Regions from separate parts of the Homo sapiens genome. Here regions 2 and 3 are each reported to be linked to region 1. Evidence: microRNA targets listed by miRTarBase, many of them from high-throughput screens and not tested one by one. Region 1 holds a microRNA gene; each other region holds the end of a gene's coding sequence.

Evidence for each region. Region 1 holds the annotated microRNA hsa-miR-128-2-5p (GGGGGCCGAUACACUGUACGAGA, at 3,277-3,299, shown strand). A microRNA usually pairs through its seed, bases 2 to 8, with sites in the 3' UTR of a target mRNA and lowers its output. Matches are read on the target gene's strand: a 7mer-m8 pairs with bases 2 to 8, a 7mer-A1 pairs with bases 2 to 7 and ends in A, and an 8mer does both.
Region 2: the mRNA of NKX2-2 is a reported target of hsa-miR-128-2-5p. Seed matches in the 3' UTR shown: 8mer at 4,678-4,685 and 7mer-A1 at 4,665-4,671.
Region 3: the mRNA of EN1 is a reported target of hsa-miR-128-2-5p. Seed matches in the 3' UTR shown: 7mer-m8 at 4,295-4,301.

The regions. Positions count from the first base shown.
Region 1 is chr3:35,741,214-35,746,387 of GRCh38, forward strand. It overlaps MIR128-2 (microRNA 128-2), which reads left to right and starts at 3,263; the gene lies at 3,263-3,346. ARPP21 (cAMP regulated phosphoprotein 21) reads left to right here. Exons shown (of 21, transcript NM_001385562.1): 19 at 2,626-2,752.
Region 2 is chr20:21,507,217-21,512,216 of GRCh38, forward strand. NKX2-2 (NK2 homeobox 2) reads right to left here. Exons shown (of 2, transcript NM_002509.4): 2 at 3,801-5,000. The coding sequence ends at 4,707. Among named protein-coding and RNA genes, the nearest start is that of NKX2-2, 4.3 kb to the right of the region's middle. RefSeq lists enhancers at 697-2,167, 1,265-1,784.
Region 3 is chr2:118,838,580-118,843,579 of GRCh38, forward strand. It overlaps EN1 (engrailed homeobox 1), which reads right to left. Exons shown (of 2, transcript NM_001426.4): 2 at 3,592-4,675. The coding sequence ends at 4,359. Among named protein-coding and RNA genes, the nearest start is that of LINC01956, 4.9 kb to the left of the region's middle. RefSeq lists an enhancer at 3,664-4,244.

The sequences.
Region 1 (5,174 bases):
CCCTCTTGTGTCTGTGACAGAAATACTTTCATTCCTTCTTTAACAGATTTTTAAAAAGATAGAAAGAGAGGGAGATAAAACAGGTGTCCATGGTTCATAATCAGTCTAGACATTTATGAACTTCTTTTTGAAGAATCACAGATAAAGGTATAGGCTATAACCCATAGTAACTTTCAATTTAGTAAACATTTTAAAATCTGATTACCCAACTATGGAACAATGGAAATAACTTAGTTCAGATTCAGCCCACAAATATGTGGAAATATGTTAAATTTCTGCAGAAAATGAATCTATTTAATAAATGTAAAGGTCGATTTCATCTGACTCATCATGTATGCTTCCTAAATGCCCACTGGAAAGGTGAAGTGAAAAGCACATGGACGAGACAAAGAGGGATTTGAAGAAGGGAAATGGGAGAAGTGCATATTTTTTATAGTTTCTTCTTTCTTTTCTCTTCTAATCCACTCCTTTTTGGATTCTCCATATTTTAACATGATTGGCTGAAAATATACATTTCTGAGCTTTGGGGCTATTCTTACTCCTTTCTCCCTTCACCTCTCTCCTTTCAAACCTTTCATACTGATCTTTTAAAAGATTGCTGTTAACCTGGCTTTCTTTCCATCCTCTCTAAGAGAGGATGAGGTTAGACCAAGATCTCATTTGCTTCATCCGGTTGGGGATCATAGTTCCTAAGAGCTAACCAAAGCGCCACCTTGGAGTGGCGCTGGATTCAAGTAGCCAAATCTCTAGCACAGCTTGTGAAGGTATCACAGAAGCTATGTCTGGGGAAAAGAAAAAAAACAAAACAAACAACAACAAAAATTGAGTTCAAAATTTTTTTCCATGCAGCTGTACTTTTATTGTAACCATTAGTCCTCATCAGAACATTTTTAAGTATAAATTCCTTCATCCCTGAGGATATTTTATGTTTTATATTGAACATAAGAAGGGAGATCAAGGAATAGATATCACATTCATGAGCTTACATTTAAGCAAGACAGTCTTTTCTAAAGGAACAAAACGCTATTTCCTAAAAGACATGTAAATATAAATGCTGACAAATAAATTAGATGAAAGTTGTTCCTATTTTTAATATTGGGAGGCATCTGATGCATAATGGTAGTCATCTTTAATACCACCAAAGTTTGCCAGAGCATAGCTAAATGCTATTATTACTCCAGAATTATTTGTTTTTTATTGTTATAAACTGCCTGACAAAAAAGAGAGAAGTAGTAAGAGCGAATCACTATAAGCAAGGTATACAATGACTTAGTTGCCAGATACTGACCCAAGATTGCTTTAGACTCATTCAGCCTCTTGCCCTTGAATATCCATATGTTATGTAGCCACAGTTATAATTCATCATGATTCCATGAAATTGCAGAGCTACAGGTTCACACAGATTAAGTTATATTTTGTTCCCACTTTATCCTCAGGCAGCAAAATATGTTACATATGTTTCAACAGCAATATTGAAATAGAAAAGTGTTTCCTATTAGACCTGAGCAAATCAGAAAACAAAATAACCATGAAAATCACAGTTCTCAAATAATTGACTTGTAATTTTATCCTATGTATATAATGTTTGTAGGCGGTCTACTAGGGTACTTCAGTTGTTATTTTAGAGAATATGATAGGCGAAAACTCAGAAGCCCAGAGATAGAAAATAATTAACTAAGATCAGTAAGAAAGTGACCTTAATATAAATGAACTGAGGCAGGCAAAGAAGTCTATCAGATCAGGAAACATTTGATTTGGATCATAATCAAATAATCAGAATAATTTTATTCATTCTCAGTCATAAGAAAGTTAAGAAGGTAGCATAAACAACATTTTTATCATATTTTCCCTTTTAGATTGAACATACTTTTTTGAATAGTGGTGTGTACCAATCATTCTGCAATGTGCTTTGATAGACTACCATATTTCATGATTGCATTCTCTGCTCCTTTTAGGCTACAGATCAGCAGTTTTCATGTTTCACCCCTGTTTCCATTAGAAAAGCAATTCAAGTTAGATATAATATTTAAAATGTAGGTTTTCGTTGTTGATGATAACTGTTTCACTCTCTCTTGTTTCATCTAAAAAACACAAAAGTCTTGTTTTAAAACAACCATTGTATGATCACGACTAGGTCAGCAATTGAGCAGGATTTATCACAGATGGCTCATCTCTGCTCCATATGGCTGGGGTGGCTTGACTAGGGCTACACTTACATGCCTGGAACTGGAGGGTAACCAGTCAATTGGGGGTACCTGTGTTCCCCACATGGCCTTTTTCTGCAGCAGAATAGTCTAGACTTCTTTATCTCTTGGCTGGGTTCCCCGCCTACAGACGTGGAAGCTGCAAGTCTTCTTTAGGATCAGACTTGAAAGACTCAGACATCATTTCTGCCTCATGGCGTTGGTAAAAGAAAGTCACAGAACCAGCTCAGATTTAAGTTTGGGAAATGGATTTTGCCTCTTTACGGGAGAAGTAGCATGCACATACACATAGGCATGGGAGAAGTTTGCGGTGGCCATCTTCACAACCTACCACAATTATAAGACGAAAGCATATTTTAAGTTTAAAAATTTACATTATCTACATTTTCATTCTCTGCTTTCTTCCTCCTTTCTTCCACAGATGCCTGTATATTATTACCCATCTGGTCAGTACCCTACCTCAACCACGCAACAGTACCGGCCCATGGCCCCGGTTCAGTACAACGCTCAGAGGAGTCAACAGATGCCACAGGCAGCACAGCAAGCAGGTACTTGGAATCTGTTTCCCATTTGCTTCTCAACCCAGTTATTTTTGCTGGTGAATCTTGTACTCTTTGGATGAGTGTCCAAGCTTGGCAATTTAAACCAGCACATTTTCTCTACCCAGAGAAGATAACAAAGCATTTGATTGACTCTGTGTGGAAAAGTAGTAGGTACAAGAAGGTGAAGCATATGTCAGACTAGCATCCCTGGCATGCATGTTAAACAGTCTCCATAAATTATTTTTTGATCCTTCTTCTGTTAAAGCAGAAAGTCAACCATGTCCGTACCTTTCTAGTTCATACCTTCTTTTAATTTTTTTTTTCTTTTCAATTTGAAGAGAGTGCTTCCTCTGTTCTTAAGGCTAGGGAACCAAATTAGGTTGTTTCAATATCGTGCTAAAAGATACTGCCTTTAGAAGAAGGCTATTGACAATCCAGCGTGTCTCGGTGGAACTCTGACTCCATGGTTCACTTTCATGATGGCCACATGCCTCCTGCCCAGAGCCCGGCAGCCACTGTGCAGTGGGAAGGGGGGCCGATACACTGTACGAGAGTGAGTAGCAGGTCTCACAGTGAACCGGTCTCTTTCCCTACTGTGTCACACTCCTAATGGAATGCCGTTATCCAAAGAGCAGCACGAACCCGACAGGGCTGAGTGGCTTGTGCTAGGGAGAGGTTTGTGTCATTCCTGCTGACCAAACTGCAGGAAAAACTGCTAATTGTCATGCTGAAGACTGCCTGACGGGGAGACTCTGCCTTCTGTAAGTAGGTCATGTAAAGAGCACGTGCTCCTTGCTGCTACTCATAGATGCCTGCTCCGTGATCTGATTTCTGCACTGAATCTATGTTATGCATATGGAATGTATACAGATACATGTATGTAATATATACACAATATGTACCATTTTTATAACCTATGAGAAAAGTGCAGTTCTTGCCAAGGATTAGCACCAATCACAGACATCCTAAGAATACCAATGCTGACACTGCTAGCATCCTGTCAGATTGGAGAAAGAATTAAATTCCCCCGTATTGTGGATGGTTACATGTTCTTTGGTTTATCTCATGGCCTATTTAAAGTCTGTGGGAGAAGAATTAGAGAAACCTATATCTTCCAGCCAGATTTTGTCTTGTTTCAGCACTGTATTAGTTTGGGGAAGAATATATTTGACCTCTGAATTGACTTTAGACTTTTACAGTGTTTTGAGAACACTAAAGGGTTTCAAATAACTATTTATTTTTAAAAAATCACTTGGCAATATTTTCTCTAATTTGTGGAAAACGTTATTACCTTTATCATTTTGGTGGTAACGGTGCTATCAGTTTAGATACATGCTGTAGAAATGTGTTGCTTGCATTCTGGACTATCTTATTTTATGCTAACGTTAATTAAAGGGTTAATTTACAATCTTGAGGATCTTGGTTTAGAGGCTATGTGCAAGTTTTCTACTTGGTTACTAATGCCTTTAGAAGAAAAAAGATGCAGATATCTAATTATAATGATTTTTATTAGGTTTGGTGCCATTGTGTGGCAATTTTTAAAGAGATTATTTCAGTCTTGTGGTAGAGTGTCATCATACAAAGAAACGCAGTTACAAAACATGCTGCAATCCACTAAACCCATAAACTCTAGATCTATGTGAGGGGATGAGAAAGTTAGATGAATATGATAACTGGGCAACAGAATTAGATTTCAAAAAAGTTTAGGCCTCCCCCACTGACTTCTCCATTGCTTTTTCTCCTCTTCACTAACTTTGTTAGTGGATGTCAAAACAAGAGACAATATATGAGGCATTTTTTACTCTTTAATAAAGCACAATGGGAGAATTTAGGGATGTGGAAACACCCTCTCCCATTCAGTTAGAGACCTCACTGGCTCCACCTACATTCCATGGCAACCTGGTAGCTTTGGTTTGTCACATTCTCCCACATCACCGCAAAAATGACCCTCCCAAGGTAAGATAATGACACTGTAATGAGAAGAGTGCACTCTAGAGCAGCATCAAGCTAAATATAGAAGCAAGGCAGTGCCTAGGGTGTCAAGGAAGTGAGTGCCAGTTAATGTGGCCTGTACAGGGTGAGGAAGTGAGAAAAGTGAAATGATCATAAACAGTATTGTCCCCAGAAATGATGGCATTAGTATACACATGCACACTGAGACCTTTGGGCTCTTAGTTTTTGTGACCACCACACTGGATACCTGGCCTAAAATCCCAACACAGTTTCCACCACAGTGATGAATGTACCTAGTATTTGGGAAAGCAGATGGTGTTCCCTGACCTTACAGAGAATCACTTCTGCTAATAAAATCCAAGTAACCAGACCACACAGTGGCTCTTTGAGAGTGCACAGAGGCTCTGGGTCCTACAGCTGGGCGTCCTTTTGTTGAGCCTAGGGAGACTAACAGAAACTTTCCAAATGGTCATGG
Region 2 (5,000 bases), not on the chromosome of region 1:
TTTCCCCATCTGAGGTGGGGAATGTTGGGAAGGGGGACTTCCACTCTTACCAAATTATCTGATTCTACTAAATATGACCGTTGTACTAAATAGGAAAGGGGGCGCATCCAAGTTTCCCATTAGTCGGAATTTCCACCAGCTCAGTTCTGCTCATTAAGGGCCGAGTGACTTTGTGGGGAACATATCTGGGTTCCAGTTTTTATTTCCACAGAGCTCAGCATAAACTATTTTTGTTTAGTACATATGGTTTATTTGGGGACTGCTTATGGGAGTTTTGACCTGGCAATTGCAGGGGAGAAGGCATGACCCAAATTATTTCCGACTGCCTCGCGCCAATTTGGACCGCTTAGAGGAGGCAAAAAATGGGCAAATTCCTTGGAAGCCCTGCTGTGTCTCCCTGGTACTGAATTTTGTAAGCACGCGATACAGGAGACATTGAAAATTAAAGAGGAAGTATCTCCCTCCTCCAACATGGGGAGAGACGCTGTTGGAAGAAGTTTCTGAAGTGGTTTCCCATCGCACCAAGAGGCCAGTGGGATGGATCCCCGCGCATAATTCAAAGGAACGCGCGCGTCTTTAGCTCTTCGGGGTTGGTAACCAAGTGGTCCGGCCGGGCGCAAGTCGCCTTGGAACCGGCTGCAGCCCAAGTCTAGCTGGGCCCGGGACTGAGCGGCACCCTTGGCCTCTCAGAACCTTTCTCGCGGTGAGTGGAAGGGCGGCTCCGCGCGCGGGCGCTTCGGGGCCGGTCGGTTGCGAAATCAGGGGGTGGATTTTCATCTACCCAGGAGCCGCTAAGCCCGTAGGGGACCGAGCATCACCCAGGCCCTGGGTACCCTGAGTTGCCTCCTGAGCCCCAGGACGGTCCGATGGTGCAGAGCTCCCAGGCAGAAGTTAGTTTCCTGATACACACACAGCAGTGAGCAAAGTGCGCACAAGTGAGCCAAACCCTGAAGACGCAGGTTCGCGGACTCCCATCCCAGCGTTAGAGTCAAGGAGACAGAAGAGAGGAAGGAGAGAAGTGAGGAAGGGAGAGAGATTATGAGAAAAAGAGATTATGAAAGTAGAGAAAGAGATTATGAGAGCGAGATTATGAGAAGAGAGAAAAAGAGAGATTTTGAGAGAGAGAGACAGAATGAGAGAGATCCAACTTTCAGTGTCACGGGGCCTAGGCGGGGCAAGCGCCCTCCGAAGCCATCAAAGACAGGGGTGGCTTTTTCTCCCCTCCTCCAGCCTCCTCCCCAATAGATATAGCACGAATTTTTAATGCGTCTTCCTTTCACAGACAACAATACAGGGTTTGAAAGCCGGACACAATTTAGGTTTTGTGCGGGTCCCTCCTCGCGCTCCCTCGGCCCAGCTGGCCATATGGAATCCAGCATGGAGCCCGTGGATGACAAAGGGACCCAGTGACAGGCCCAACAAAACCCCAAGGAGACTTCTGCCTGACTCCGGGATTCACTGCCGGCGATAAGCGCGCTGAATGGTGCGGGGTGGGGCGGGGGGTGGGGGGCGGGCCCCTTCTCCTTCTTCCCCTCTCTCTGTCCCCGCGATCCTTTCTCTGTCCCTTTTTAATATGCACGCCTCTAACATCTCCGGCTCCCAGCTTTCCCATTGTGCGGTTTTGTACCGCCCGCTGTAGATTGGGCGAAGATAGACTGCTGAAGCGGACCCCGCGCCGGGTGCGCTCCCAGGGCGCTGGGGTTAGGGCCACACAGGGCTCCGCAGGCGCTTTTATTGACTCCATGGGGACCCGAGGACAGAGAGAGGCGGGCGCCGGGTCCACCTCCCGGGCTCCCGGCCGGCCACAGGAGCGCACACCCAGATTGCAGGCCCGCGGTCCTGGCCACAGCTCCAAATTTGTCCTCAATGAGCAAGTGGTGGAAGCCTGCCAGGGTGAGGACCTTCCACGCTTCCCCCTTCCTCTCTGGAAACCTGAGGGTCTCTTGTGATCATTCTCACCCTGGAAGCCCTGGGGCCTGGAAAAGTCAAAATGGCCTCAGGCCTTCTGACAGCTCCGCTCCAAGAGACTTGAAACCCTCACCTTTCCTCCCAAGAGGATTTTGGGATTAGGGGAAGTTGCAAGTGGATGTTGAGTGGTTAGTACCAGGGCAGGTTGGGCGTTCAATTATTGCACAACAAACTATTTGGGAGAAATTCGTTGGCCTTTAAAAACAGTAAGACATAAGCCCCCAAACATTGCCAAGCTAGTGTGGAGAACAAAGGGAGACCTTTTAGCATTTAGAAAAACTGCCCTTTCCCCGAGGATGAGCCCGGAGATGGGAAAGGACCTTTACTGGGGTATTAGAAAGACTTCCGAGCCCTCAATTATCCAGGGGCGGTGTGGAACGCGGGAATAAAGTGTCATCGCGTCCCTGGGCTGCTGCGCAGAGTGCTATCGACGCACAGATTTGGTCGCACGGATAATCATGTTTGCTTTAGATATTGAATTAAACCTGATCATCAACTACAGGGAGCGAGAAAGTCAGCTGGGACCGCTCCTTTTGCCCGGCCTCCTCACTGCCACCCAACCCCCCAGCCTTGATGGTGCAGCTTCGGAGAGAACAGAGATACAATTTCCAAATGCGCCGACGTTCAGTCCCTCAGCGTCTGCAGCACCCGCTGGGCTCTGAGCTAGAGTCCCAAGTATTTTTAGAAACCCGCGAGATAGAGGAGAAAGGCTCATCCTCCAGTTGGCCAGGCTTCCTAAGACGCTCCCCCGCGTGGCCAAGTGTGCGCCAGCATCTGCCAAGGAGATCTTCCTCCAGCAACAAGGGTGGGACGGAATCCGTTCCCCGCCGGAAAGATGGATGCGCCCTTCCCGGGCGTGCCCGGGGCTGTGTGCCCACTTCCCATCCGGGGAGCTCACCCCACCCCCAAACCTCTACTTCCTAGCAATCCACCCAGTTCCACGCTCAAGGGCTGACCTGGGGGGACCGCACACCCTGGTTCGGACCGCCGAACGCTGGAGGGAAGGAGGCCCGGGATCCAGTCCCCGGAGAGAGGCCTGGAAGCCCGGAAAGGATGGGAGCGTAAGGGAAGGGAGAGGCATGGTTTGCTGGGATTGCCAAAGATTCTCGCTCCCTGGCTTCCTGGGGCCAAAGATCCTAGGGAGGGCTGCAGTATCCCCTCCCTCCCCCGAGCCCAGAACCCCGCGTACTTCCCCCAAGCCCCCTAAGCCAAAGCCTCGCGCGCCCTGACCGTTCCCACCCCCAGCCTTAGCGGTCTCCTAGGTCAGCACCAGCCCGCAGATTTTGAAAAGGAGTGGGGAGTGGGGAGAAGGCAGCCAGTCTTAACCTCAGACCCCCACCCACCCACTTTCTTAGCGTGAGGTAAGTCAAATGTAACAAAGTGAAAGTCATCGAGTGTAGTGGCTTCAACAGCTTCTCAGGCTGAAGGAGCCACTCATAGATTTGGGCCAGCGAGGGGGGTTTGCTCTCCTCGCCTTTGCGGCTCCCGAAGTCACTTTTCCTCCCGTAGCCGGACGCTGCCGCCCGGGGTTCAGACAGCGCGCGAGACCAGGGGAGATGCGGGGGAGGGTGGGCGGCCCTGGGCTTCCGGCCGACCGCTCGCAGGCCGGAGGCCGAGCGTTCTCCTCCCCGCCCCAATCCTAGGCGCGGGGTGCAGCCTGTGGTCGGAGGGGCCTGCACCGGGAGCCCCGCCCGCCCCAGGGCCCCGGTACCCCCGGCCTCCCCGCCCGAGAGGAACCGCCTGTGGGAGCCCCGCGGGCGGCCGGGCCCGGCTCCCAGGCCCAGGCCTCCGGCCCGGCGCAGTAGGACAAACGGGAGGGCAGGGATTTTTTCTTTTTTTCTTTTTTAAACACAGGATTTTTATTAAAATTCTTATTTAAAAAATCGAAAGCTTTCTGCGCCCGGCGCTGTTGGGGAACCGCGCCGAATAGCTGAGCTCCAAGTTCGGGGCTGAAGGCCCGGAGGACAGGGCAGAGGGCTCCCTGCCTACAGGGTTTTCTTTTCCATATTTGAGAAATGTTTGCACAATAAAATAAAAAGAGAAAGGAAGAAAGCAGGGGAAAACGCAAAAACAAAAACAAAACAAAAAACAAACCCAAACAAGCCACAAAGAAAGGAGTTGGACCCAGACGGGAAACAGGCCGGTCCTGAAGGTCATTTTGGCAACAATCACCACCGATATTTACAACGAAAAGCGAAATCTGCCACCAGTTGTCAGAACGTTTACATGGCCATAAATATTTAGCATTTTCTTATTTTTTTTTAAAAAAAGGAAGAAATTCTCTGTATTTTTAAAGTGTTCTCCACTTGCTTTAGAAGACGGCTGACAATATCGCTACTCACACAAACATATTTTACAAAATGCACGAAAGCAGGGGTGGGGGGTCGGTCTTTTTCTCGTTTTCAAGTGACGACATTAACGCTGGGACGGTTTGGTCCCCCCGGGGAGAGGCAAAGAAGCGAAGCTGCGCAAACATTCTGTAAACACGGCGTAGAGTTCAGCCCTCTCCCAAGGTTCAGAAGGAGAGGCATGGGCAGAGCTGGGTGGGTGGAATCTGCCACTCCAAGGAGACGCAGGCAACCTCCCGGCGCCTCCCTAGTGGAGCCGAGAGTCAACTCGACTCCATAATAATAATTATAATAATAATAATAACCACCATAAGGACCGAGGCCTCCTCGCCGCCACCGCCGCCGGGGTGGGGCCTGGGCCTGGGGCCGCGAGTCTCGTTGGGGCGGCGCTCACCAAGTCCACTGCTGGGCCTGGACCAGGGGGTGTGCTGTCGGGTACTGGGGGGTGCTGGCCGAGCTGTACTGGGCGTTGTACTGCATGTGCTGCAGCGACTGCGCGCTGTAGGCAGAAAAGGGAATGCCCGCCTGGAAGGTGGCGGCTGCCAGGTCCTGGGCTTTGAGCGCGTGACATGGTTTGCCGTCCCTGACCAAGACGGGCACGGCCACCCGGCGCGGCGAGGGCAGGGGCGTCACCTCCATACCTTTCTCGGCCCGGGCGCGCTTCATCTTGTAGCGGTGGTTCTG
Region 3 (5,000 bases), not on the chromosome of region 1:
CTCTGCCACCTCCCACAGACGGGGATGAGCATAGTCTTCCATTTGAACCCACTGTGACATCCAGACTAAAAGGGTCCAGGCTCTGAGGTGAAGCTGGGGAGGACACCTGGATGCCTCTCTGCCCTTCTCTGCCCTGCTCCCCTGTATGGTGGAAGCAGAGGATAGTGGGTTGACTAGATCGCCAGAAGAACGGCCTGTCTCATTCACACAAAGGAAAAACCAGGCTGACCATGGAAGGAATTGATGGCCATCCCACAGTAGCTGCGGCAGACACATTCATCCAGGGTGCAGTGTGGCCCTGGCCTGCATCTCCTGGACCTCCAGGAGACAGCCAAAGCTCACCCCTGCCTTGTAGCTTGGCCCTTTTTGGGGCCTTTTTTCTACTGTGTGTGTTGGGGCTTGGAGTGTCCTGGGGCACAGTGGCCTCCCCCATGGTATTATCTCTAGACACCCTGCCACAGGTGACAGATGGGTGTAGGGGCCTGGGAGGGTACAGGCTAGCAGGTCACTGCTCTGTTCCCTGGGCAGCCCCATCTAGGGAGCTTAAGAACTGGGTACACATACACACACCCACAGACATCAAACAGTCACTACTAGAGGCCATATACCCAAAGCACACACTTCCACCTCCCAAACCTAAATAAATATACTCAGTACCATCCCTATACAAATGCCCACACACAGTACAACCCACGAATACACACGAACCAACGCAATCACACCAAGCAACCCCACATTCCCAAATACCACAACACCCTCTCCTTCCACTTTCCTTCCTCCTTCCCTCAGCCCCATCCATGGCCTTCCCCCTAACCCTACTGAAGAAAAGAGAGTTTCCAGCAAGAAAACAGAGACCTTTGCCCTCAGAAAGAACCAGGGATCAATACTGTTTAGACTCAGCTAGCATGTATTTCCTTTTAGGCTGAGGAAGATTTAAGTTTATGGTTCAATTCAATCTTTAAAAAAAAGGAAAAGCAGAAAATGAGGCAGTTGGGATGGCGTGCTCAAGTATTTATTTCACTGCAGCCCCAGACCTGAATACACAGGTGGCTCACTAAGCCAGCCCCATAAATCAGAGAAATCAATGCCCGTTTATGATCATTATTAGTTTCTTTTTTTAAAAGGGCGTGCAAGAAAAAGGTCCCACCAGAATCCTCCTCCCCTCTCCTCTACTCCAATCAGAAAGAAGGAAAAATGGAGAGAAGATGGGAAAGTCATCCTGGATGATGGCTTCAGGGCCTTGGCCAGATCCTTGAGGTCGATGCGACTTAGACATACATAGTCAAGGAGGAGGCACAAACAAAATGTTTAAGTTCTCAGAGCTTCATGTTCTTTCACTGAACAATGAAGAAAAATCCATTTTCCCATAGTGATTGGAAGATAAAAGGAGATAATGGGCAAGAAAGCAAATTACATAATAATGACATTCACGTCTATACACTTTACTGACACAATCATGGGGATGGGTGACCACCTTCTCCTCCTCTCGCTGGGTTAAAGGAAAGAGCTCTTGACTTTGATCTCTTGGATAGAGGAAGGGGAGCATGAGGAATGGGGTGGTTCCTAGAGTTGCTGCTCACACCGACCTCTGTCCCAGCCTCTGGACCTGGTAGTCTTGGGGGACTTGAATATCCTAAGAGGCCACAATAGGGAGGGGAGAAGGGAGTGTAGCCAATTCCTAGACATTCAAAATAGTAAGGTTCTCCAATATATAGAGTTGAGCATCCTTAACATCACATCTGATGTGCTGGGAGGGTGAAATGGAATGGGACTCTTCCTGAAATTCTGAGAGGTATTAGGAGAAGGGTGCTCCAAGACACAGGCCTCAGACTGTTTAACAGGAAAGCCTGGAAGGCTTGAAGAGTCCAAGCCCACTCCCCAAGGCAAGCAAAGCACAGGCTTTTGACTACCAGAAAACAACTCCCCTAGACCAACCCCAGGGAAGGGCCCATCTCACTGCTTCTAACTCTGCCCACAAAGATTGGTTGAGCACCTATTATATGCAAGAGTTACTCCTCCAGAAAACAATGGGCAGATGGAAGGAAGGAAATTAATTGCAATAAAGTTGGGAACCCACAGCAGTGTCAAATGCACCCTCCAATTCCACTCTAGCCGCCAAACCCTTATGTAGGGATTTGGAGGGGACCTAGGCTTCCTGGGATTGAGATCTAGCCCTGTTAGTTCCCCGGCCAGGAGCAAACAGTACATTGGGCCAAATCAGGGAAAATTTTTCAATAAAAAAGGTGGAATAACTAGCCATTATCATTTTGCACAAAATCAATCCTACAAAAACAGTTGAGAAACTCAAGGGAAGAGCACAGAGAACAGGGATCTCACACATGAACAAACCCAGCAAACACACCTGCAGACATTCCAGTGTGCAAACACAAATTCATGCATGTACACACAGTGAACTCACAAACGTCCAATTGTGTATCTAATTAGAGAAGAAAATCAGTTGCACAATACTCACGGGTACAGGAATACACAAAAAACTGGTAGGAACTTAGGTGCACCAATATCTGCACATTATTGTATATGCACACAAGTATGTGTGGGCACCTGCCCGTCTAGCTGCACACGTGTGGGTATATACATACATATTGCCGAAGAGAGAAAAAATGTGGGAGTGGAATTTACAATTTAAAAAAATCCTGGACAAAGATAATACCTCCTGAGAAGGAAACTTCCCTTCCTCCCCTTAACCTCTTAAGATCTGAGAGCAGCTCCTGCTCTGGAAGGATGGGCCCCAGTGTTAGCAGCAAGAGGCCAGACATTTCCTTCTGGGAACCCAGGGTGTCCTGAGGGCCCTGGGGGCTTCTATGTGCGCCCCCCTTGGTGAGGAAGAAAGTTAGGCTTTGTTGGGATGCCTAAGGGAACCCTCTTTGGTTTAGGGCCCAGATACGGCAGACGTGCGCCCACCTCGGGTTCAAGGCCCAAGCAGCCACTCCGAACAGCTTTCCCAGCATTTGGGCCTCCTCTCCTCCGGCATTGCGGGCCCAGGAGATCCGAGCCCCGCGAGGCTCCGCAGGCCGCCCCCGGACCTGCTGCTTCGCCAACAGAAGCCCTCCCGCAAACGAAGTGCAGTGAGTCCAGGCGGCCAAGAGGCCAGGCCAAAGTGCCCCTCGCCCAAGCGGGCTGTCGGGGAGGGAGGAAGGCAGGCCCCCTTCTATCTCTGGATAAAAAAAATCTGCAGCAAAACCTGCACCAGGGGAAATAAAAGAAAGAAAGAAAAAGAAAAGTGCAGGTTGGAGTGAAAAGCAGTTTGTACAGGAGGAGGCCGCCACTGGGCTGGGCCTGGACCGGTGCGGGGAGCTGCCCCGCAGCCCAGGCAGCGTTTCCGAAGCCAGGACTGTGGTTGTCGGCCTTTGAGTTCCCTTGAACGCAATCGGAGACCAGGCGTGTCCCGCCAGACCCTTCAGACCCAGGCTAAACCCAAATCTGGGTCGCGCTTCCCCTTCGCCCTGCATTCGTTGTGCGGTGATCGCAAGGCCCGGCCGGCTCCCCGCCCGGCGTGCGCAGGGGCGCTGGGGCGCTGTGTGCCCGGACCCACGTCCTTCCCGAGCCCGCAAACAGGAGAGCCGCCAGCGCTCGTGAGCACAGTGTACACTTTATTTCAGACTACAGGTTTCTGAACATAATAAAATCTTTGGCTTGTAGCGGCGGTTCAGTCTCGCAGTCTGTGGGGTCGTATTTCTCAACAAGTCTCCGGAAAACGAAAGGGGGGCAGAACAGACAGACCGACAGAAGGGACCCGGGAGGTGGGGGAGAAGAGGTGGGCAGACACGAAAGGAAACACACTCTCGCACACAAAGAAAAGTCCCAGAGAAACCAGGGCCGGCGATGCGGGTCGGGAGGCACCGGAGAAGCAATGACATTCAAATGAAAAAGGCAACGAAAACGAAACTGGGCGGGGGCAGCGAGGCGGTGGGGGAGGGGATAAAATAATTATAATAATTATAATAATTATAACAATAATAATAAAGGAGATTAATAAAAATGTCCAGCAAATAGAGATCGCTACACGTATGTGTTTTCCTTACCTGAAATTAAATATATACAAGGTCGTAAGCGGTTTGGCTAGATAGAGCTTTAAGGAGTTCGCAGTTTCGTCCCTTATACTGGGAATAGAGAATGGATCTTATTTTTCGATAGCACCTGTCCGAGTCTTTCTCCCTTTTCAAAAATGCTGCGTTTCAACGTCATTGTCCATTCTGAGGCTCTCTTTCTGTCTCTCTCGCTCTTTTCCCTGCGCTCCCTCCCTCCTTGGAGCAGATGCTTTCTCCCCCAGCGAGGGGCCGGGAGACGACGGCGGCGGTGCCGGGAGGGGGCGCGGGCGCGGCCCCGGCCTGTGGCGGCTACTCGCTCTCGTCTTTGTCCTGGACCGTGGTGGTGGAGTGGTTGTACAGTCCCTGGGCCATGAGGTGCAGCGCCAGGCCGTTCTTGATGCCTGTGGCTTTCTTGATCTTGGCGCGCTTGTTCTGGAACCAGATCTTGATCTGGGACTCGTTGAGGCTGAGTTCCTGGGCCAGGGTCTGCCGCCGCTGCTCCGTGATGTAGCGGTTTGCCTGGAACTCCGCCTTGAGTCTCTGCAGCTGCTCGGCCGTGAACGCGGTCCGCGGCCGCTTGTCCTCCTTCTCGTTCTTCTTCTTCTTCAGCTTCCTGGTGCGCGGACCTGCAGCGGCGGAGAGGGCCGGGGTGGGGTGGGGGTGGGGACCGAGGGCAGAAGGGAGGGGGGAGAGGGCAAAGGAAGCCGTGAGAATAGCATTGCCGAGCTGGGCCGCGAGCCCCGCGCTTCCGGGGCGATCTCGGAGGCCCTGCTGAACCCCTGGCTCCCTCCCGCCAGCCAATCCCTGGATCGAAGTGCCCCTCACCAGACCACTGGGGTCCCCGGGTTCCCTTTGGGAGGGCAAAGGAGCAGTGAAGGAAAGCTGGTTGAGGTTGTAGGTGCACCCCACACCCCAATTCTCACAGGACAGTCAGGGACAGACCGAAATCAC